Linked DNA regions of Homo sapiens: all the other regions are reported to be linked to region 5. Evidence: microRNA targets listed by miRTarBase, many of them from high-throughput screens and not tested one by one. Region 5 holds a microRNA gene; each other region holds the end of a gene's coding sequence.

The links. The annotated mature microRNA hsa-miR-1281 reads UCGCCUCCUCCUCUCCC and lies in region 5 at 1,836-1,852, shown strand. An mRNA with a match to its seed (bases 2 to 7 or 8) in the 3' UTR can be bound and repressed. Matches are read on the target gene's strand: a 7mer-m8 pairs with bases 2 to 8, a 7mer-A1 pairs with bases 2 to 7 and ends in A, and an 8mer does both.
Region 1: miRTarBase lists TMIGD2 as a target of hsa-miR-1281. Seed matches in the 3' UTR shown: 7mer-m8 at 1,677-1,683.
Region 2: miRTarBase lists SMAGP as a target of hsa-miR-1281. Seed matches in the 3' UTR shown: 7mer-m8 at 1,465-1,471.
Region 3: miRTarBase lists SIT1 as a target of hsa-miR-1281. The part of its 3' UTR that is shown has no 7-base or 8-base seed match.
Region 4: the mRNA of BRMS1L is a reported target of hsa-miR-1281. The part of its 3' UTR that is shown has no 7-base or 8-base seed match.
Region 6: miRTarBase lists GTPBP10 as a target of hsa-miR-1281. Seed matches in the 3' UTR shown: 7mer-m8 at 3,230-3,236.

Annotation. Positions count from the first base shown.
Region 1 is chr19:4,290,061-4,294,109 of GRCh38, reverse strand. TMIGD2 (transmembrane and immunoglobulin domain containing 2) reads left to right here. Exons shown (of 5, transcript NM_001169126.2): 5 at 1,225-1,883. The coding sequence ends at 1,511. SHD (Src homology 2 domain containing transforming protein D) reads right to left here. Exons shown (of 6, transcript NM_020209.4): 6 at 3,388-3,663. The coding sequence ends at 3,477. Among named protein-coding and RNA genes, the nearest start is that of TMIGD2, 10 kb to the left of the region's middle.
Region 2 is chr12:51,243,446-51,247,480 of GRCh38, forward strand. SMAGP (small cell adhesion glycoprotein) reads right to left here. Exons shown (of 4, transcript NM_001031628.2): 3 at 3,306-3,386; 4 at 1,113-2,674. The coding sequence ends at 2,496. DAZAP2 (DAZ associated protein 2) reads left to right here. Exons shown (of 4, transcript NM_014764.4): 4 at 1-488. Among named protein-coding and RNA genes, the nearest start is that of DAZAP2, 6.6 kb to the left of the region's middle. RefSeq lists an enhancer at 4,004-4,035.
Region 3 is chr9:35,646,257-35,650,175 of GRCh38, forward strand. SIT1 (signaling threshold regulating transmembrane adaptor 1) reads right to left here. Exons shown (of 5, transcript NM_014450.3): 5 at 3,039-3,825. The coding sequence ends at 3,592. LOC101926948 (a long non-coding RNA gene) reads left to right here and starts at 14. Exons shown (of 2, transcript NR_135130.1): 1 at 14-177; 2 at 434-1,220. It also overlaps a transcript of CD72 not described here. RefSeq lists enhancers at 186-565, 3,426-3,475.
Region 4 is chr14:35,869,821-35,873,880 of GRCh38, reverse strand. It overlaps BRMS1L (BRMS1 like transcriptional repressor), which reads right to left. Exons shown (of 10, transcript NM_032352.4): 10 at 1,918-3,521. The coding sequence ends at 3,404. Among named protein-coding and RNA genes, the nearest start is that of BRMS1L, 46 kb to the right of the region's middle.
Region 5 is chr22:41,090,710-41,093,709 of GRCh38, forward strand. It overlaps MIR1281 (microRNA 1281), which reads left to right and starts at 1,804; the gene lies at 1,804-1,857. EP300 (EP300 lysine acetyltransferase) reads left to right here and starts at 1,883. Exons shown (of 31, transcript NM_001429.4): 1 at 1,883-2,389. The coding sequence starts at 2,296. RefSeq lists silencers at 784-1,073, 1,174-1,943, 2,124-2,223 and an enhancer at 2,334-2,573.
Region 6 is chr7:90,384,033-90,388,092 of GRCh38, forward strand. GTPBP10 (GTP binding protein 10) reads left to right here. Exons shown (of 10, transcript NM_033107.4): 10 at 860-4,060. The coding sequence ends at 1,122. Among named protein-coding and RNA genes, the nearest start is that of CLDN12, 17 kb to the right of the region's middle.

The DNA.
Region 1 (4,049 bases), not on the chromosome of region 5:
GGTGACAGAGCAAGACGCGGTCTCAAAAAAAAAAAAATTTAAAAATTAGGCTGTGCATGGTGTCTCATGCCTGTCATCCCAGCACTTTGGGAGGCTGAGGCGGGTGGATCACTTGAGGTCAGGAGTTTGAGACCAGCCTGGGCGACATGGTGAAACCCAGTCTCTACTAAAAATACAAACATTACCCAGGCGTGGTGGCCTGTGCCTGTAGTCCCAGCTGCTTGGGAGGTTGAGGCAGGAGAATCACTGGAACCCAGGAGGCAGAGATTGCAGTGAGCCCAGACTGCCTCACTACACTCCAGCCTGGGCGACACAGCCAGACTCCATCTCAACAACAACAAAAAAATTAGCCTGGCTTGGTGGCACACGCCTGTGGTCCCAGCTACTTGGGAGGCTGAGGTGTGAGGATTGCTTGAACCTGGGAGGCGGAGGCTGCAGTGAGCTATAGTTTCCCCACTGTACTCCAGCCTGGGTGACAGAGAGAGACCCTGTCTCAAAAAACAAACAAACAAACAAAAAGACAGTTTGAAATTAAAAAAAAAAAAAAATTGGCCGGGTGCAGTGGCTCATGCATGTAATCCCAGCATTTTGGGAGGCCACGGCGGGCGAATCACGAGGCCAGGAGTTCGAGACCAGCCTGGCCAACGTGGTGAAACCCCATCTCTGCTAAAAATACAAAAAATTAGCCAGACGTAGTAGCGGGGGCTTGTAATCCCAGCTACTAGGGAGACTGAGGCAGGAGAATCACTTGAACCTGGGAGGTGGAGACTGCAGTGAGCTGAGATCGCACCGCTGCTACACTCCAGCCCAGGTGACAGAGTAAGACTGTCTCAAAAAAAAAAAAAAAAAGGCCGGGCGCGGTGGCTCACGCCTGTAATCCCAGCACTTTGGGAGGCCGAGGCGGGTGGATCACGAGGTCAGGAGATCAAGACCATCCTGGCTAACAGTGAAACCCCGTCTCTACTAAAAATACAAAAAATCAGCCAGGCATGGTGGCGGGAGCCTGTAGTCCCAGCTAGTTGGGAGGCTGAGGCAGGAGAATGGCGTGAACCCAGGAGGCGAAGCTTGCAGTGAGCCGAGATTGCGCCACTGCACTCCAGCCTGGGCGACAGAGTGAGACTCCGTCTCACAGAAAAAAAAAAAAAGAGACAGATCCCCCAGAGGTCAGCTGGAGAGGGCAGGACTCTCTTAAGTGATCCTCTTGGTCTGTGTCATCCATCCTAGGAAATGCATTCTACAGCAACGTCCTATACCGGCCCCGGGGGGCCCCAAAGAAGAGTGAGGACTGCTCTGGAGAGGGGAAGGACCAGAGGGGCCAGAGCATTTATTCAACCTCCTTCCCGCAACCGGCCCCCCGCCAGCCGCACCTGGCGTCAAGACCCTGCCCCAGCCCGAGACCCTGCCCCAGCCCCAGGCCCGGCCACCCCGTCTCTATGGTCAGGGTCTCTCCTAGACCAAGCCCCACCCAGCAGCCGAGGCCAAAAGGGTTCCCCAAAGTGGGAGAGGAGTGAGAGATCCCAGGAGACCTCAACAGGACCCCACCCATAGGTACACACAAAAAAGGGGGGATCGAGGCCAGACACGGTGGCTCACGCCTGTAATCCCAGCAGTTTGGGAAGCCGAGGCGGGTGGAACACTTGAGGTCAGGGGTTTGAGACCAGCCTGGCTTGAACCTGGGAGGCGGAGGTTGCAGTGAGCCGAGATTGCGCCACTGCACTCCAGCCTGGGCGACAGAGTGAGACTCCGTCTCAAAAAAAACAAAAAGCAGGAGGATTGGGAGCCTGTCAGCCCCATCCTGAGACCCCGTCCTCATTTCTGTAATGATGGATCTCGCTCCCACTTTCCCCCAAGAACCTAATAAAGGCTTGTGAAGAAAAAGCAAAGCTGGTGTTTGTGGCGATTTGGGAGTGCTAAAAAGATCTGAAGAAATCGGGTGCGGTGGCTCACGCCTCTAATCCCAGCACTTTGGGAGGCTGCGGTGGAAGGATCACTTGAAGCCAAGAGTTTGAGACCAGCCTGGGCAATAGAGCAAGAAGACTCCATTTCTACAGAAAATTTAAAAACAAGGCCAGACGCGGTGGCTTGCGCCTGTAATCCCAACACTTTGGGAGGCCGAGGTGGGCGGATCACCTGAGGTCAGGAGTTCGAGACCAGCCTGGCCAACATGGTGAAACTCCGTCTCTACGAAAAATACAAAATTTAGCCGGGCGTGATGGTGCAGCTGATGTCTCTGGTCTCAGATATTTGGGAGGCTGAGAGGGGAGGACCACTTCAGCCCTGGAGGTTGAGGTTGCAGTGAGCTCTAATTATGTCACTGCCCTCCAGCCTAGGTGGTAGAGTGAGACCCTGTCACATACACGCACCAAAAAGACTTAAGGGGTCATCTGGGGTCCCAGAGCTCTCAGGGGTGGCTGGAGAGGCCCACTGTGGCCAAGGGACTTTGTGGCAACTCAAAGCCCCCCTCCCACCTTATAGGGACAAATCCAAGGAGGAAGAAGTGGTACTCTGGCTTCCAAACAGTCCCCTGCCATGGAAGACCCCCCCCGCAGCTGGCATCACTCCCAGGCAGGCCTGGAGGTGGGGAGAAGAAGGGGAGGTCAGGAGATTCATGGTGTTTACCAGCCCCCCAGGTCTCCTGCCTGCCTGGCCTGTCACCTTGAAGTGACACCAGCTAGGCCCAGCTCCCCTCCCCTACTTCTGCTGTTTCCATGGGGACAGATGTCCTTTCTGCAGATCAAGCCACTGCTGCCGGGGGGAGGGAGCGGGGCTGGCCCGAGAGCCTGGCCCCCCTCAGTTTCTCCATCTTTGTATCTGTCGGTTTCTATGGAGTGCGGTTTTTAATCTGCTCCACGACGCTCTGTCTCTTGCTGAGTTCTGGTCCCTCCCTATGGGAGATTCAGGTTCCAATCCCAACTCTGTCCCCAAAACAAAGTGCTGGGGATGTGCTTGGCCCTCAAGGCCTCGAGGGTTTTTTATGTTTGTTTGTTCTGAGATGGAGGCGTTTCACTCTTGTTCCCCAGACTGGAGTGTAATGGTGCGATCTCAGCCCACTGCAATCTCCGCCTCCTGGGTTCAAACGATTCTCCTGCCTCAGCCTCCCGAGTATCTGGGATTAGACGCATGCGCCACCACGCCCGGTTAATTTTGTATTTTTAGTAGAGACGCGGTTTCTCCGTGTTGGTCAGGATGGTCTCGAACTCCCAACCTCAGGTGATCTGCCTGCCTCAACCTCCCAAAGTGCTGGGATTACAGGCGTGAGCCACCGTGCCTGGCCTCCTCCAGGGTTTCAATTACCCCATTATCCCCCTCTCCAGGGCTGCTTAGGGCTTTCCCGCTGGGAGTCAACGATCCCACTTCCCTCTGTAGCCCAGAAAGGACACTAAGACAAACAATAACTTATTTATTTTCTAGGCCATGGGAGGGCTTTGGGATACGATTCTGGGCCCGAGGACTCAAAAGGGGGCCGAGGGTCACTGTCAGGGGGTCTGCGTGACCACGGGGTACAGCAGAGCCAGATGCTCGGCACCCTGCACCGGCAGTGGGCGTGAACTGTAGTGGAGGACGAGCTCGGGCACGCTGGGGAAGGGCCCGCTGTGTTGGCCCAGCACCACCTGGTTCTCACGGGTCCGCGCGAACTTCAGATGCAGGAAGCCCTGGCTGCTCCTGGGCGATGAGGGAGAAAGGGACTCCTGAGCATCCCGGACCCACCCAGAAAGGCACCATCCCCAAAGCCACCTCCCACAGTGCCCAGGCCAGGTGCTCGTGTGTCTCCAGTCTCTGGTAAACAGCAGTGTGGTGGCTGGTATACTCGCTCACACCTGTAATCCCAGTGATATGGGAAGCTGAGGCTGTAGGCTTACTCCAGGCCAGGCGTTAGAGACCAGCCTGGCCAACAGAGTGAGACCCCGTCTCCACCAAAAAACATTTAAAAATTAGGCGGGTGCGGTGGCTCACGCCTGTAATCCCAGCACTTTGGGAGGCCGAGTCAGGCAGATCACTTGAGGTTACGAGTTTGAGACCAGCCTGGCCAACATGGTGAAACCCCATCT
Region 2 (4,035 bases), not on the chromosome of region 5:
TAGACTGGGTTAATAGGGTCATATTGTGAATGTCTCACTACAAAATGACTTGAGTCCAGTGAAATCTCATTAGGGTTTAAGAATATTTCAGGGATCCTTAATGTTTTGATTTTTGTTTTCTGAAATTGGATTTTATTTTATTTTATCTTATAATTTCAGTTCATCTAAATTGTGTGTTCTGTACATGTGATGTTTGACTGTACCATTGACTGTTATGGAAGTTCAGCGTTGTATGTCTCTCTCTACACTGTGGTGCACTTAACTTGTGGAATTTTTATACTAAAAATGTAGAATAAAGACTATTTTGAAGATTTGAATAAAGTGATGAAGTTGCATTACACCTCACTGCAAGGATTCTTTACTTAGCTTGTTTTTAGATTTCTTCTATATATATTTTATTTATATCCCATCTAGAATTCAGCTAGGTGCTGCTGCTGCTCTGTTTCCTTTGATGACGCTTTGAAATAAAGGCAGGAGTACAAGCCTAAGACTTGATCATTTCATGAATTCCATTCCAGATGTTCAACTTTTCATCATTTTACTCCAACCTCTTACAAATTTTGGAATTTCGGACCTAAACTTAGAAATGAGGGAACTATTGATTCTCCTAACTTGCTCTAAAGTTTGGCTTGAAGAAAAGGTTCTGGTATAGCAATTTGTATACGTTGAGGATGACCTTTAGTTTCTCCAATGTTCTATGTGGAGAAATACTGAAAACTCATAGAATCTAGGTTGCCAAGATAGATTCCTCAGCTCTTTTATTTATTTTTTGAGACAGGGTCTCCCTCTGTCACCCGGGCTGGAGTGCAGTGGCAGTGTCTGCTCACTGCAACCTCCACCTCCCGGGTTCAAGTGATTCTCCTGTCTCAGCCTCCTGAGTAGCTGGGATTACAGGCACCTGCTACAACACCTGGTTCATTTCTGTACTTTTAGTAGAGACGGCTTCACTGCGTTGGCCACGCTGGTCTCAAACTCCTGACCTCAAGTGATCTGTCTGCCTCAGCCTCCCAAAGTATTGGGATAACAGGCAGTGAGTCACTGCACCCAGCCAGATTCCTCAGCTCTTGATCTTAACTTGGTTGGGTTTGAGCTTGGACAACAGAGGCAATACATTAAGACTTCAAAGGAGATCTAGCTTTAATTCCAAAGTGAACAATATCTGATGAGCTAATAATTTATACCAAAATGTGCCTTTTAAACACAACTTATCTTGAGACTAAAATCCAAGAAGCTTCTTGGCTTGATTCTGAGGATACACTGGGAAAGGTGGTAGGTTGATTTTTTCTGGTTCCTTCTGTATATATGTAGAAGGGATTCTGGGAAATTCTGGCCCTTGCCAGGATGGAGGCTTGAACCAACTCATCTCCCAGGGTACTTTTTTTTTTTTTTTTTTTTTTGAGACGGAGTCTCACTCTGTTGCCCAGGCTGGAGTATAGTGGTGCAATCTCAGCTCACTGCAAGCTCCGCCTCCTGGGTTCAAGCCATTCTCCTGCCTCAGCCTCCCAAGCAGCTGGGACTATGGGCGCCCGCCACCACGCCCAGCTATTTTTTTTATATATTTTTAGTAGAGACGGGGTTTCACCGTGTTAGCCAGGATGGTCTCGATCTCCTAACCTTGTGATCCGCCTGCCTCGGCCTCCCAAAGTGCTGGGATCACAGGCGTGAGCCACCGAACCCGGCCCTCCCAGGGTATGTTTCTAATGATGTTCCCCTGGAACAAGCTTTCCTGCACCATCTTTGTCTCAAATCCCTGAGATAGTTCTGCAAACTTCTAGAACTTTCCTAGGGTTCTTATTGCTTGGAAGAGAACATATGTAAAGGCGTTAAATAGGGAAAAGAAAATGTCAAAAATGTTTAAGCAAAAATAAGTCAAAATGTAGTTACTTCTTGCACATGAGAATCTGATTTCTGTAGCAATGAAAATTTTTAATTTGAATAAAAATCACGTAAGCATGAGGTTGTTGGGGAACACGGAAAGGAAGGGCTCAGATTAGGGGGTGTAGCACATTTATCAGGAGGTAAGATCTCCATAGTCTCCTACCCCTCCTGGCCTGGCCTTTTACTGTGGTATCCAGCCTCTGGGAAGACCTTGTATGGACAGTATCTCCACTGGGGCTATCACTAGGTGACCAGGTAGGGGACAGAGTAGAGCAGCCAATGACCTTAACTCAAAATCTTTTCTCTCCCTTCAACCTGTGAAAAAAGATGACTGGGCACATACTCAGATGTCCCCTGGCATAGCCACATCTTGTTGGCCAGTCACAAACACCAGCTCTAGTAAGAGGGCCTGGTTAAAGATATCATAAACAGCTTTCTCCATGTCCCTGGTCCCTGGAGTCAGTGATGTCGGCATTTGGGACTGCGACCTGGCTGGAGCTTGGATTTGCCCACATCAATCAATGCTTCTCCCTGGCTTCAGAGAAAACTTTCCCATAATAAGCAGTCAACGTGTTAGCGATGGAGCCAGGAATAAGCTCCTTGGGGCCTGGGAGTCATTAGATGAAATATTCCTCTTTCTCGCTGCCCTTGGCCAAGTCACTCTCCATCTGGACGATGGCACTGGGCTCACCTTCTGTAGGTTCATAGGTGACGTAGCTGCCTTTGTTCTTGTACAGGTAAAAGAAGATCAAGATCACGACCGAGAGCAGGGTGAGGAAGACAACGGTGATAACAACTTGGAAAGGAGAGGGAAAATGTAGAGATGTTTCAGGATTGAGGATGTCTCAGTAGTTCCTGGAGTCATCTGATTTAGTCACTGTTTTCGTAAAGATCCTCTTGTTTTCATTAACTAGTGTCCACTTCCATCCAAACCCATGTTCCCCCACCAACCCCAATTTCCATGGCACATAATAGCTGGAGTCTCCTGGTGCTTAAGCTAAGGACACATGCTTTTGATTTCTGACAAAACTGAACTGCCTCCCAAACCAGTTCCTGATTCTTAAAGAAACGGGAAGGAGGGAACAGGAAATGGCTTATCCTAACAGGAAGTGGTTTATCTGATCCTCCCCCTCTTCCTCACCCACTCAACCAACCACATATATCCTCGTCCCTACCCACGTACTCAAGTGTAACGTCCGTATGCATATCTATTTGCGGCCACCTCCCAACCTGTCATTTACTGGTAGTGCCTCTGACAGAAGCCTCCGAGTCTTTTATGGCTGTGTGTGTGTGTGTGTGTGTGTGTGTGTGTGTGTAATATAACTTACAAGCCAGAGTGAGCCCATTAATGGATTTGGTCAGGCTCCCTCTGGAGAGAGATGCCCTTGATCCAGAAGGTCCCTTGGAGTTGGCTCAGAGTCTATTACCTGCAATGAGTGCTGTGCTGGCTCCATCTTCTGGGGACAGGGCCTCAGTGGGCTGTAAAATTGGGGTGGTCATCAGTTCTTCTGGAAAATGTAGAAAAGTGGAAAAGGAAATGGAGTGAATTCTTTTGTTTGAAAGCATATGTTTGGCCTTCAAATTTCACCACCCCACCTTCTTCCCTATTCAAAAGTTTATCATTTAACTCCTAGAGTATATCCAAATAGAAAATCCTAGAGAATAAAGAAGAAAATAAACCACCACCCAAAGACAATATGTTGATGGATTTCTCCCTGCATAATATAGTGATTAAGAGTAGGGGCTATAGAGCCTGACAGACTGGGTTTCAAATATGAACTCTGTCCTTTACTAGCTGTGTGACCTTGGGAAAATTACCTAACCTCTATCTGCAAAATGGAGGTAAGAGTACCTACTTTAAAACGTTGTTGTGACATTTAATAAGTCACTCAGTAGGATAAGCCATTATTAGGAATGCATATTTTTACAATAAGTGAGATCAAATGAGTTGTATGTGTATATATTTACATTATATTATATAGCATGTGCATTTTCTTGCAGCATTCTTACTAATTCTTTGTAAACATTATTTTAACATAATGAAATAGTGCTCCTCTCCTATTAAAAACCCTTTTCTACACTTCCAGGATAGGCCCTGCAATTTGAAAGGTTCTGAAACAGGCCTCTCCTCTACCCTAAAATAGATCCTGCACCCCC
Region 3 (3,919 bases), not on the chromosome of region 5:
AGCTAGGCTTTAAGAAAGAGGAGGGACAGCTGGGGCCCTAGGAGCTCCCCCTGAGGGTCTGTCCCTGGGAACGGGGCGCTAGGACGGGCACTCCTTCTGGCTGGAATGCTACGCCGGTGAGGGAAAGGAGTCCACTAGGGAAGTACCTGGAGGTGGAGACGGGGAGAGAAATCACAGGTATTTGTGAGTCGATCAGCTAGAGGGTGTGGCAAGGGGGGGCCCCTCGGAAGATGTCTTAAGTTCCAGGTTCAGGAATCAATAGGGAAACTGCCCAGTCCTTGTGTTCAGGGCTGAGGGCCTCGGTGACGGAGACGAGGTAAGAAAACGGAACGGCTGTACAGGAGAAGACAGAGAATCCGGGCTGGGGGACGGAAAACAAAGTTCAAATCATACCCCGCTACAGTCACATATGAAAAATAAAATTGTTTTACAGAAACTCAGTTTACAAACGACTGCTTGGGAGCAGTCATGTCACCCAGTCCAGAGGGAGCCGGTCAGCTGCGTTCCGCGAACTTGGGAGGCGACTGCTGGGGTAGCGGCGGGGCCCTCACTGCGCGTCGTCAGGGACCAGACCCTGGGGTGGCCCCGAAGCGTCGAGACTACAACTCCCGGGATGCCGCGGGCCAGGCTGCATCCCGCCTGCGCAGAAGTGGTGGCAACTCCGCCCCTCGCCAGGCGGCGGCGCTGCGGACTCAGTCCTAAGCGGGCGAAGGCGGCGAGCGCCGTGGGTCTGGGCGGGCCAGGAGAACCGGGTGCTTCGAGGAGATCTGCGGGCTGGGTTGGGGGCGTTTGACCCCTTGGCTTGTCCCAGTGGGTAGGCGGGACTCCAACCCCCGCCTCCTCCAGGGTAAAGCTCTCACGTCCACCTGGCGCGACGCTGAGCCATCTTCAGAAGCACCGCAGCCCTCAGAACCCCACATCCCGCTGCCGGTGGTTCCCCGCATCCGGTGTCCGCCCCCGAAGCCTCCCTCCCTCCCTCCTCCGCATCCCCAGCTACCTGCCCTTAACCGCGACCTGGGCCTCTCCTGGGGAGGCCCAGGGTGGGGTCCTCAGAGGTCCAGGGACCCAGGGGCATTTGTGGGGTCTGTAGGGGGGTGGGCTTAAGGGAAGGGTGGTCCCTTTCAAATTGGGACCACCAGGCAGGAATCAGGCGCACGGGTTCCTCCTCTGTGGCTTCCTGTGGCACTCCAAGTGGGAAGAAGAGAAGCTTGGAAGTGAAAGCCTCAGCTTCTCCTTTCTTCAGCCCCTCAAGCCTCAGAAAGATCTGTCAAGCGCGGCCCGCCTCTACAGAGGCCCTGGGGAGATGGTCTAGACCTTGAAATATCCTAGAAGAGGTTTGACAGGTTGGAGCTTTTGCTAGACAGATGGATCACAGATGGGCTTAAGGGGTGGAGGGTGTGTGTGTGTTTGTGAGAGAGAGAGAGAGAGAGAGAGAGAGAGAGAGAGAGATTGCCAGGTGAGGAAGGTGATGAGCTGAAACCAACTTGGAGCTATGCTGTATTATGATGATGAGGATTTGGGTTGGGGGGTGTTACAGGCTCTAACCAGAAATCTGGAAGATGTGATAGGTGGGGCCTTTAAAAAAAAAAAAAACCCTAAACATCTCTTTGTAATCCATCCCTCCTCTGCATCCCTACCGCTACTGCCGCCATCCCCTCTCACTCAAATCTTGCAATAGCCTTTGAAAGGCGCCGCCTGACTCCAGACTGCTGACCACTAGATCAGCACAGCAGCCAGTGGAGTTAGAGCCTTTAACTCACTGTGTTCATCCCTCGCTTAAAACTTTCAGTGACTCCCTTTCACCTCCCCTGCAGGATAAAGCCCAAGCTCCTTGGCATGACTTATGGGCGCAGTGTGATCTGGCTCTGTCTGCCCCTCCAGCCTCATCTTACCATTGCCCCCATCTCACTCTACCCTCCGCTGTGCCTAATGCACTTCTGCCAGGTCCTCTGAATAAGCCTCTCCTTTGCCTGTGGTTCCCTTTGCCTTGGAGCATTTTCTGTCCTTCGCTTCTCCTGGCAGATTCCTACTATGTGTCATGTCTCTACCTAGAAGTCACTTCACCTATGAGCTCCCATAGAGGATCCTGTATTTCTCTTATTTTAATAATGCCTAGCATTATTGAGCATTTATTGTCTAAGTGCTTTACAAATGGTAACTCATTCAGCCTCACAACCACCTTTTTTTGAAGTAAACACCGTTAATATCCTCTCAATCTTACAGATTCAGAAACCGAGGCACAGTTGCCCAAGAACACACAGCTGGTAAGTGGTAGACATGGAATTTGAATGCAGGCAGTCCGGCTCCTGAGCCCAGAGTCCTAATCTCTGTGCCAACTGGCTGATGTAGCATGCTATATGGGGTAGGAGGCTGGGGTTAAGAATCAGCAGGTGATGGGTGGACAGGCAGGACAAATTAGATGGGGATTAAAATGAAAGTGGTGACAAGCAAAACTGTTGCCAAGACTGCAGGTGACAACTGAGAGAGTGAAGGCCAGGCACGGTGGCTCATGCCTGTAATCCCAGCACTTTGGGAGGCCAGAGTGGGAGAGAGTGAGTGGAGATGGACCGCTGCCATAGTGATGGGGTAAGGAGAAGGCCTCTAGGGGTATACGATGACTAAGTGCAGATAAGGCTACTGATGTCAAAACAGGGGTATAGGTGGGACTCATAGCGGACAGACGGAGGTCAGATTGGAGGACTTGATGAAGGAACCAGGCTGGCAGGTTGTGGAGGTGATGGCAGTTATAGAGGTCAAGGGGAGAGTAGCTCAGGACTGTGAGCTTGCAGCCCCAGGGGGAATGCAGTGGCTCTGAGTGCAGATCCCAGGGGTGTTCTAGCAGCAGCAACAGCAGCTGAGGAGCTGGGCTCTGGCCCTCCACCCCGGTGCCCACCTCTGCACTGTTGATGCCGCAGCCCCTCTTGGCCCCTCATCCCCAGCTAGGCACCCCCAGAAAGAGCTCCGTGCAGACAGCAAAGCTCACACCCCCATCTGCAGGGCCCTTTGCAAGTCTTCAGCCTTCTAGGTAAAAATCTAAACACTTTTTGGAAAGTTTTATTTGAAAACTTGGGGACAGGACAGAGACAGCAGGATGGAGACTGTATTCTCCTGCTAGGGTTCTTAGGTCAAAAGCCAGGCTCGGGTCCCTCCCGTCTCTAAGTTCCAGGTCCACTCCAGTCTGTGGACTCCTGAGGAATATACCCACCCACCCACTGTCAGGCCCTTACCCCTCCCCCACCGCCCACTTCCTGTGCCTGAGGAGACACTGAGGCGTGGGGGTAGACTATGAGGGAGCGGGGGTGGGGAGGATCTGGTTAAACTCCAGAAGAAGGAAGTGAGAACCTGGGAGTTTGGGGGCTAAGAGGAACAGATAGAAAAAAGAAATAAGGAGGGGGCTACTGTCTTTGCCTCCTCCATCACGAAAGCTTTGCCCTGAGATGTCTCCCTTGAAGCTCAGATAGGAAGTCCGGGGTAGATCACATCCTGTGACTTGGCAATGGCGCCCGTCTTTGGGTGCTGGTTGGGAAACAGTCATGCCCCTGCTACGGGGGGCTGGGGCAGTGCACGCCCCGCTGTGCCAGGCCCTCCATCTCAGCTGGCTGCAGGCTGGCTGTTGGCATAGGCCTGATCCGGGAAGGAGGCCCGGGCCCTGCGGGTCTGGGCACATACTGAGGCATAGAGCTCCGGCTCGGGGCCCGAGGCCTGGGACTTTGGCTCAGAGTCCAGCACCACCTCCGAGTACTTGACGGGGGTTCCAGGACCGGGGATCCGACCCTGAGGAGGCCGCAGCTGCAGGCTGGTATAGCACATCACCTCCTCTGCAGCCTGGAGATGCAAGGCTGTTAGAAGTTCACTGGACCCTCGGAAAAGCCCGAAAAGCCCCCCACTTCCTTCCCTCCCCCTTTTCTCCAGCCACAGT
Region 4 (4,060 bases), not on the chromosome of region 5:
TTTGCATTCCAATTTAGCAAGAAACTACATAAATCCTAAGTAATGTATTAATTCATCCTACATCCATCCTTTTTTTTTTTTTTTTTTTTTTTTTTTGAGACAGAGTCTCACTCTGTCACCAGACTGGAATACTGGAATGCAGTGGCATGATCTCAGCTCACTGCAACCTCCGCCTCCCAGGTTCAAGCGATTCTCCTGCCTCAGCTTCCCAAGTAGCTGGAACTACAGGTGCGCGCCACCACACCCAGGTAATTTTTGTATTTTTAATAGAGACAGGGTTTCACCATGTTGGCCAGGATGGTCTCAATCTCTTGACCTTGTGATCTGCCCGCCTCAGCCTCCCAAAGTGCTGGGATTACAGGCGTTAAGACACCACGCCCGGCCTATCCTATATCCATTTTCTTATAAGAGAAATTCATTTTAGTTCAGTTTTATTGTACTGGATTTACTGGGTCCAAAAACAAAAAGAAAAAACAGATAACTTCTCCTCTAGGTGTTAAGTAGATTTTTTCCTCATCTTCTTAACTCTTATCATAACAGAAATTAAAGTGCACAAGACCATCAAAAATATGTGATTTGGTTGTACCCTAAATATGGGGCACATGTCCTCAGGACCTCCTGAGGCTATGTCATGGGAAAAAAAATGTTATATATATATATATATATATATATATATATATATATATATATACACACACACATATACAGCCAGTTGTGCTGCCATATTAAAGGTTCAATTCTTTCTACTGTTCCTGAATCTTTGGAAGTTTTTCTTCTTTTTAAATAATTATTAATGAGGCATACATGGTTCTGCAACTGGTGTTCCAAGTAATGCATACATCAGAACAACTTTTACATGAAGAAGGCTGCAAAAAAGTACTGTGTCCAGCCCACCAATATGAACAGTGAAAAAGGGGACAAATCAGGAGTGTGCCATTACTATTTGCCAATAATTATTAGTTGAAGAATTGCATTAGTGATACTTAGATAGTATCTCTTTTTAAAAAATGGGAAACAGCAAGGAGGGGATGGATTGAACATGAAAAACTAGGAGCTGTGACAATAAAGGTCAAGAAATGATCCTGAGACAGAAGCTGATCATAAACACAGGAGCAGCAGCAGCCACTACATCACATTTTGGAGTTTCTAATAATTTTCCTAAATTAAACTTTATGACCAGACAACTAATGGCAAACTGCCAATAAGACAATATATTTTATAGCATTTTAGTCATAGATAAGCATATGCTTTTATGAATCTTAATATTATGGTAGAATACTACATAAGATATAAATACTAAAGTTTTGAAAATAAATGTACTAAATCATAGTTTTAAAATAAAGATTTCCTAGGCCAGGTGTGATGGCTCATGCCTATAATCCCAGCACTTTGGGAGGCCAAGGTGTGCGGATCACCTGAGGTCAGGAGTTTGAGACCAGCCTGGCCAACATGGCAAAAACCTGTCTCTACTAAAAATATACAAATTAGCCAGGTGTGATGGTGCACACCTGTAATCCCAGCTACTCAGGAGGCTGAGGCAGGAGAATCACTTGAGCCTGGGAGGCAGATGTTGCAGTGAGCCAAGATCGTGCCACTGCACTCCAGCCTGGGTGACAGAGCAAGACTCCATCTCAAAAAATAAAAATAAAAAAATAAAGATTTTCTATTTAGAATTTCATTAACTTATACAGTACCTTTTAATCAAAGTACAACACATATGCATATATTTTAAAATTAAGTATAACTTAGCTGTCTTGAACATCTAAATATACCCCAGAAAGTGCTGAGGTTACAGGTATGAGCCACTGCACCCAGCCTACTCCATATCTATTAACGTAAACCAATTCAAATCTTTCTTACAAGTGGATAGGTTATAAAAAGAACTAAATACACATAAGTAATCCAAGACACTACAAATCACACTGAAACACATCTTTTTATTATATACTAAATTTAAAAATACAAATCTTATTAAAAATGCTTATCAAACATTGTATACATAAGTACTGTCAAATACTATTGGGTTTTGACATTATGTACATTTGCTAAGGTTAATTAGAAACAGAACAACGTAATATCACTTTGCTGACACTGAATTTCAGCAGTTAAGTGTTTTAAAATTTGGCAACTATGAAGTAGTGATCTGCACAGGAAGATGTTTGGAGAGGTAAAATAATAAGAAAACAAACGGAATAATGCAGACATTTCTGCAGTAAGTGTTAATAAGTAGATTTCTTCCTCATCCTCTTAACTCATTGTAACAGAAATTAAAGTGCACAAGACCACCAGGAATACCTGATTTGGTGTACCCTAAATATACACTACAGCCGGCTGTGCTGCCATATTGAGGGTTTCAATTCTTTGTACTGTTCCTGAGGTTTTGGAAGTTAATTTTGAATGTGGCTAGCGGAAGGGAGGCCAACACTTTCTAAATTGCACCAAATGGCCTTAAAGTGTAGAAATACCAAAGAAAAAAATATTAATTTGGAAATAGATTCAAGGAAATAATCCCTGTCTACTTTGCCCTAGGAATAAAATTAGAATAAGGACACAGTTTTACCTCTGGAAAATGCTTACTAAAATCTGTTTCAAAAGACCAGACATGTACAGCAAGCACAATACTGTCAGTTATTGTTCACCACTTATATACTGCATCATAAATACCAGGTATAAATACCTGCCGCTAAAGGGTCACTAGAAATACAGGTAGAAGCATGTTATCACTTTACACTAATTTTACTCATTAGGTATAATTTGTAAAAATAGGTCACCACCCCACCATACAATCAAGAAAGAGGAAAAGAAAAGTTGCTATTCTACAAAAGTGCTCCTTTTAGCTTTCAACCCCAATAGCTTAATTTTGGGTAAAACAAGATTGTAAGGTATGGCCATCAGTTCTAAATAAGCTGATGATGCCATATATACATCCTCATATATATATATGTTTAAATTTCAGTTCTGGTTTAACACTAATGTACTAGTACAAACCATTTATAGGAAACATTCTATCGGCCTTATTTACAAACACACAATGAATGACAAAGATATGGAAAATTTTAAAAATTGCAGATAAATGTAGTCATAGTTTACTAAAGATAAGACAAATTTGCATAACTTTTTTTAAAACCAAAGAAAAATGTTTAGAAAGAAACCCCTACCATATACAGAATACCTATTGGTCATCGGACCTAAGAGGCAAATCAACGTAAGGATCGTGATAAAATTTTTATTACTGTTTCTTTTAATAACATATCAATGAGATCTATTTAGAGTACTACCTACAAATACACATTCTCTCATGATTCAGTGAGAATATTAAGTTATTGAATACATTTTTTTACTCTCATGGCACTTACATTTGGTAACACTAATAAGGTAAATTTAGATAACACTTAAATCATGATTATGAATGTTTAATTGAATATTTTCCTTTCTGTAGCTGTGAAATGTAAAGCTTAGATTTGCTTCCATCAGGCCTCTTAAACCAAACTTCATCATGGTTAATTGTTGTAATTACAGCACTAAAAAGAAAAAAAAAAGAATGAATGAATGAATTACAATGTCTCCTCAATTCACTTTAGATTATTACCTATATAAAACCAAAATAAACTGGCCTACAACAGTAGACTCAGGTATATAATTGTCATTTACCAGAATGCTGCATATCAGCAGTACATGCTGCCAAAAATATCACATTCAGCAACACAGCAGATCATCCTTCTTTTCTTAATAGAGTTCGTAAAATTTACTTTCTATTAGAACTATTAAAAGCACATTCTTCCTACTCCATCCCCACCCCACCTCTTTAAAAAAAAAAAAAAAAACTGGAGCTAAAAGCGCTATGTATATGGTATTATACTTGTAACTCATGTCAGTATCTTTCAAATGCTAATCTCTAATTCCTAATGTCAAACCATCTACGGTACTTATACCAATTTTTTTTACACTACTAATCTTTACATAAAAAGATCTATTCTTTAAATAGATTTGTATTTTATTCTTTTTTTAATTATTTATTTTTTGTTTATTTATTTTGAGACAGAGTCTCACTCTGTCGCCG
Region 5 (3,000 bases):
ACTAGACTTTATATTCCAGCATTTCCTCTCACCATTACATTTTTGCTTTTTTCCATCCTTACATTACCTTTACCACATTTTTGTTTTTCCCATAATTACATTAGATAAGGCAATGGCTAGACGTGGTCTTTTACTAACTTGTTCTATTGGGAGCGGACGAGAAAAAAAAAAAAGACAAACCCTAGAAATGTCTTCAGGTCCCAGCCATGTTTAGGAAAATACTTGAAGGCTTCTGCGGTGAGAGTGCTACCTGGTAAGGGCGTATGGACACACGTGGAGGGCAAGAAATGAATTTGGGTCTGGTGCCGAAACATCTTTCCACTGCTGTGATTTTGTTTTCTGGTCAGAGTAATAATGCTCGTTGTAAAATAAATAAATAAATAATACATAAAAAGGAAAAGGAAAATTCAGAGAAAATGAAAACAACTCGTAATCAACGTGCTTTTTGGATGTGAACTGCTCCCTTTGGGAGGGCAATGGAGAAGTGAGGACGCACTGGGTATCTGGCCCGGAACAGCCGGCAGTGGGTACACCCTGCCTGGTGAATTCGACCGGGGTTTTGGGGGACCCGCCACCCAAGGGCCGAAGAGCAGGGCCGCCCTACGGGCGCTCCCATTTGGCCACCTGAGTGGCGACTTGGCGCCTTCCTCGGAGCAGCTCCGGGGTTCCGTCGTCCCGGTTCCCACTGGTCCCTTACGCAGAGACCAAAGGCAGGAACCTTCCCTCGTAACTATCCACCGACTGAAAATAGATTCTGAGTCCGCCCCCGCCCCTCCCCCCTTAAAATCCTCCCCACTCTTAAAATCCTCCCCTTTAAAGGGAGCCACAGGGTGACGCCGGGGGAGTTTGCGGAAGCGCTAACCGCGTTGGGGCCTAGGGCGGATCCCGTGATTGGGACAGGCCCCGCCCCCGGCTCCACTTCCCCCATTGTGTGAGCGGCTCGGGCCTAGGCCCCGCCCCCCTCCGGAGGCCCGGCCACTCCCCTTTTCCACCCCCCCTTGGCTCATTTCCGGCCGCCGCCGCTACCGCTAGCCTGTAAGGAGGATTCGGCAGAGGGAAGAAACAACAGCCGCCATCTTGTTTGTGTGCTAGGCTGGGGGGGAGAGAGGGCGAGAGAGAGCGGGCGAGAGTGGGCAAGCAGGACGCCGGGCTGAGTGCTAACTGCGGGAGCCAGAGAGTGCGGAGGGGAGTCGGGTCGGAGAGAGGCGGCAGGGGCCGAGACAGTGGCAGGGGGCCCGGGGCGCACGGGCTGAGGCGACCCCCAGCCCCCTCCCGTCCGCACACACCCCCACCGCGGTCCAGCAGCCGGGCCGGCGTCGACGCCTAGGGGGGACCATTACATAACCCCGCGCCCCGCGGCGTCTTCTCCCGCCGCCGCGGGCGGCCCCGAACGGAGCCCCGGGGGGCGGGCGCTCCCAGCACCTGGCCGCCGGCGGTGGGGGCCGTAGCAGCGGCCGTATTTATTTATTTTCCGCGGGAAAGGAAGGCGAAGGAGGGGAGCGCGGCGCGAGGAGGGGCCGCCTGCGCCGCCGCCGGAGCGGGGCCTCCTCGGTGGGCTCCGCGTCGGCGCGGGCGTGCGGGCGGCGCTGCTCGGCCCGGCCCCCTCGGCCCTCTGGTCCGGCCAGCTCCGCTCCCGGCGTCCTTGCCGCGCCTCCGCCGGCCGCCGCGCGATGTGAGGCGGCGGCGCCAGCCTGGCTCTCGGCTCGGGCGAGTTCTCTGCGGCCATTAGGGGCCGGTGCGGCGGCGGCGGCGCGGAGCGCGGCGGCAGGAGGAGGGTTCGGAGGGTGGGGGCGCAGGCCCGGGAGGGGGCACCGGGAGGAGGTGAGTGTCTCTTGTCGCCTCCTCCTCTCCCCCCTTTTCGCCCCCGCCTCCTTGTGGCGATGAGAAGGAGGAGGACAGCGCCGAGGAGGAAGAGGTTGATGGCGGCGGCGGAGCTCCGAGAGACCTCGGCTGGGCAGGGGCCGGCCGTGGCGGGCCGGGGACTGCGCCTCTAGAGCCGCGAGTTCTCGGGAATTCGCCGCAGCGGACGCGCTCGGCGAATTTGTGCTCTTGTGCCCTCCTCCGGGCTTGGGCCCAGGCCCGGCCCCTCGCACTTGCCCTTACCTTTTCTATCGAGTCCGCATCCCTCTCCAGCCACTGCGACCCGGCGAAGAGAAAAAGGAACTTCCCCCACCCCCTCGGGTGCCGTCGGAGCCCCCCAGCCCACCCCTGGGTGCGGCGCGGGGACCCCGGGCCGAAGAAGAGATTTCCTGAGGATTCTGGTTTTCCTCGCTTGTATCTCCGAAAGAATTAAAAATGGCCGAGAATGTGGTGGAACCGGGGCCGCCTTCAGCCAAGCGGCCTAAACTCTCATCTCCGGCCCTCTCGGCGTCCGCCAGCGATGGCACAGGTTAGTTTCGGCAGCCCCGGCCTTCCACGTTCCCTTTAATCTTTTCTACTCGGTGCGCCTTTATTCTTCCATTTTTTTTTTCTTCCTCTCTCTCTAGTTCCCTGCCCCTTAATTAATTTTAAAGGTATTTGAATGAGCTGGTCGAAGACGTCCAGTAGCCCAACCATTTTCTTTGCCTCCTAATACATTGATTGCAACACTATGTCATATCGGTGTGTGTTCTGGAATTAGAGCTCGTAAGTGGGTGCTATATAGAAATGGCCTGTATTGTTGCTCTCATGCAATTTAATTTGGGAAATGCCAATGCATTTGTGTGTAAGAGCTCCTATGCAATTTAAGTTTCATTTTTTTTGTTCTTGGCAAATGAATTTCGAATCCTTTCTCTTTACTGTACTTACTGTGTTTCCTCTACTTTCCACTCTTCGAAATTTTCTCTCCTTTGCAGAATATTTTCTGTTGAGGAATAGGGTGTAAAAAAATCTTGATTTTGTGTGTGCGAGGTCCAAGATTTCAGGTTAGAGGTGAAGTTTAACAATTCTTTTATCTTACCTACCATTCTTAGCTTTTTTTTCCTTTTTCTTCTTATTTGCTTTAAGAATCAATATGGAGCG
Region 6 (4,060 bases), not on the chromosome of region 5:
AGTTCTTTTTGCTAGTTGATCTTGCAGAGAAGGGAATTTTCAGAGGAAATACCGAAAGTGAGGGTGACTCAGGAGTCTGTAGCTGTTCTGACCTATCGTGAAATAAAATATAGGCCCTTTAGTGATAATCCTGAGTTATCCTCTCTGGACTTTCTTCGGGGCTTTTGAATCTCAGAAAGTAAGCTCCATGTTGTCTTCTCCACCAATCTGTTTCAGTCCAGCCTTTCTAGTTCATATCAGTTAATCCATCTAATCAGTATGCCATCTCCCCAGCCAATCAGTATGCCATGGTGACAGGGAAGAGGTAAAAGTAATATAACAATTGTTAGCCCTTGTGGGGTGATAGATTGGACTCATCTGAAATTATCTTCCCTTGAATTCTCTATAATCCCTCTTCAGTTTTTGTATGGATCCTAGCATCATTGATGATAAACCTATACTTTGGGGAAGTTAAAGGTCTCCAGTGTACTGAGGCCAAGTAGAATGTCTCAAATCATAAATGATGTTATTATTTTTACAGAAAGTATCTTTCAGAGAATCAATGCTGCCTTGCCTTATTTAACCCCCCCCACACACACAAAATTTATTACTTCCTTAAGTAAGTCATTTTTGTGATTCATCTTCTACTCATACTTAGTTTGGTTTAAAATATATTTATCTAACAAGTATGTTATGTGCCAAGAACCTTACCATAATCAATGGTAAAATCCAAAGGCTCTGAGAACTTATTAGAAAAGGTGAAAAAAGGCATGAAAAATGCTGGTGTTGGTTCCCTGCTTCACAAATCAAACCATTAACATGGTTTTAACTAACTTTCGAAAACAATGGAAATCAGCTTTGTTTGTGCTCTTTCTTTTAGATTTTCTGCATTTATTTGAAAAAAACATGATTCCAGAGAGGACTGTAGAGTTCCAACATATCATCCCCATATCTGCAGTTACTGGAGAAGGAATCGAAGAATTAAAGAATTGTATAAGAAAGTCACTGGATGAACAGGCCAACCAGGAAAATGATGCACTTCATAAGAAACAGTTGCTTAATTTGTGGATTTCTGATACAATGTCTTCTACTGAGCCACCATCAAAGCATGCTGTTACTACTTCCAAAATGGATATAATTTAAATATATTAAAAATGGTATTGATGGAACAGTATTTAATGCTTAAAAACAAGGAAATCCTTTCATCTGTGACAACCTGGAGGACATGTTAAGTAAAATAAGCCAGGCTTAGAAAGACAAATGCTGCATAATCTCACTGTGGAATCTTAAGTTGAACTCATAGAAGGAGAGAATAGAATGGTGGTTATCAAGGGCTGGTGGGGCAGTGGAGGATTGAGGAGATATTGGTCAAAATTTACAAAATTTCAGTTAGACAAGGCAACTGAGTTCAAGAGATCTGTTGTACAGCTTGGTGACTGTAATTAACAACAATGTATTTTGAAAGTCACTGAGTAAATTTTAAGTGGTTTTTCCAAAAAAGCACATAAGGTAATGCACGTTAATTAGCTATATTGAGCCATTCCACAATGTATAGATATTTCAAAACATGTTACACATGATAAATCCAGTTTTTCTACGTCATTTTTTAAAATTATATTTAATTTTTTTATTTTGAAAGTTTTTTCACAGATCTTTTTTTTAGTATTATTACCTTCTGATATATGTGTCATTATTGAAGAACCATACCTTTTAAAGTTATTATTTTGTAATTAAGTATGTCAACAGTAAAAAATAACCAGTGGCCAGGCATGGTGGCTCATGCCTGTAATCCCAGCACTTTTCGGAGGCCGAGGAGGGCAGATCACTTGAGGTCAGGAGTTCAAGACCAGCCTGGCCAACATGGCGAAACCCCGTCTCTACTAAAAATATAAAAAATTAGCCAGGCATAGTGGCGCATGCCTGTTGTAGCCCCAGCTACTCAAGAGGCTGAGGCAGGAGAATTGCTTGAACGCGGGAGGTGGAGGATACAATGAACCCGAGGTCGCGCCACTGCACTTCAGCCTGGGTGACAGAGCTAGACTCCATCTCAAAAAAAAAAAAGAGCTAAAAAATTACATTTTACAAGTTTATGGCCAGCCCACCTGTAATAACATTCTCTGATATTCCTTTACTTAGGATGTCCCTATTGAGATCATTTTTTAAATTTATGTGGAAGGATTCTCTAGATTATTATTAGAATGAGCAATTCAGTTTTGTTTGTTTTTGAGCCTGTCTTGTACCTGGTTGCACTAAATATATAATAGTTATCTTTTGTGGAGACCTTAAAACCCTAAATTTGAATACATGTTCAATGATAGTAAAGATATGACAGAAACTAGAAGATAGCTGTTTATGATTTGAGCTTTTGGAAAATTTTCGTTTCTTGAATGTAATAGTATTTTTTCCTGAATTGGAGGAGACTGATCTATATTGTTTCATTTTTCTTTTGTCCTAGTCTATTTCACTTTCTTTTGTCATAATCTATTTAATTTCCCACTTTCTTATTTTAGTAAAGAGAGAATAAATAGCAAGTGCAGGCCAGGCATGGTGGTGCAGGCCAGACATAGCGGTACATGCCTGTAATCCTAGCACTTTGGGATGCCAAGGCGGGAGGATTGCTTGAGCCCAGGAGTTCATGCCTGAGCAACATAGCAAGACCCTGGCTCTCTATAAAACAGAAAACGCAAACTTTAATATTATCAACAATCAATATATTATAAGAGATTGCAATTTCTAAGTTTCTACCTGAGTGTTTCACAAATACAAACTGGACATTTTCCCTTTAAATGAGTTTTATTATAAAATGTACATATTGATTGTAAAAACAAAAAATTCAAATAGTACAAAAGCATATAAGTAACTAATAAAAGCTCCCTTTCTGCATTAGGCCCCTCAGTTCTTCCCAGGGAAAATGATTAATAGTTTACATTCTTGCAGAAATTTTTTATGTATAAATTTTTACCCAAATGAATTCATTATATAAATTTTTTCCAACTTAGTGTTTTTTTACATAATAGTAGCAAGTTAAAAAATTGTACTTCAGGCCAGGCACGGTGGGTCACGCCTGTTAATCTCAGCACTTTGGGAGGCTGAGGCAGGAAGACCACTTGAGGTCAGGAGTTCAAGACCAGCCTGGCCAACATGGTGAAAACCCATCTCTACTAAAATACAAAAATCAGCTGGGCATGGTGGCGCATGTCTGTAATCCCAGCTACTCGGGAGGCTGAGGCAGGAGAATCGCTTGAACCCGGGAGGCGGAGGTTGCAGTGAGCTGAGATTGCGCCATTGCACTCCAGCCTGGAGGACAAGAGGGAGACTTCCTCTCAAAAAACAAAATATTGTACTTCAAAAAATTATTCTTCAATGCTATTTTTAAATTACTAGAAATTATTTTGGAATTTAATGTTGCATACAGCCTGAGATATGGCTGTTCACCCTTTGGTAAAGTATTAAAGAAAAATAATGCATTGTTCTCAGCTTAAATTTTTTTCTGATTTGACAACATGAGTGATGTTTTCCCAGTATTATTTCAATTATATTTGTTTTATTTTCTGTTCCTCACTCCTACCTCTCATTCCAGTCCCCAAACTGGCTTTTCTTTTATTTCTTTTTTCTTCATTGCTGATGTATTTATTGAGCAATGTCCTGTATCAGGCACTGTCCAAGGTGCTGTATGTGCCATGTTGAAGAGAACAGACAGGACCTACTGTCCTTGTATATCTTGCCTTTGATAACAGAAACTGCAGGGGATTGGAATAGCCTCTTTACAAGAAAAGAATAAGAGTGAGGAAAAGCGTTTGGAATTTATAGTGATCACAGTGACCAGGTTTTGTATTGGGTATGTTTTACATTTGTAACTTCAGTGCTATTTTTTTTTAAGCTCCATTGTTTTCTAAATGTAAACAAGTATCAATGTAAGGACAGTTTCATCAGGTGAATATCAGAAGTACTGACACCATAATCTCATTTTGCACTGTGGCAAAGGGTAGTAGATGTGTGTTCAGGATTATTTGCTCTGTCAGTAGTGCCCAGGGTGCCACTCCATGACTAACCGAAACATTTTATTATGTGACTCACTAAG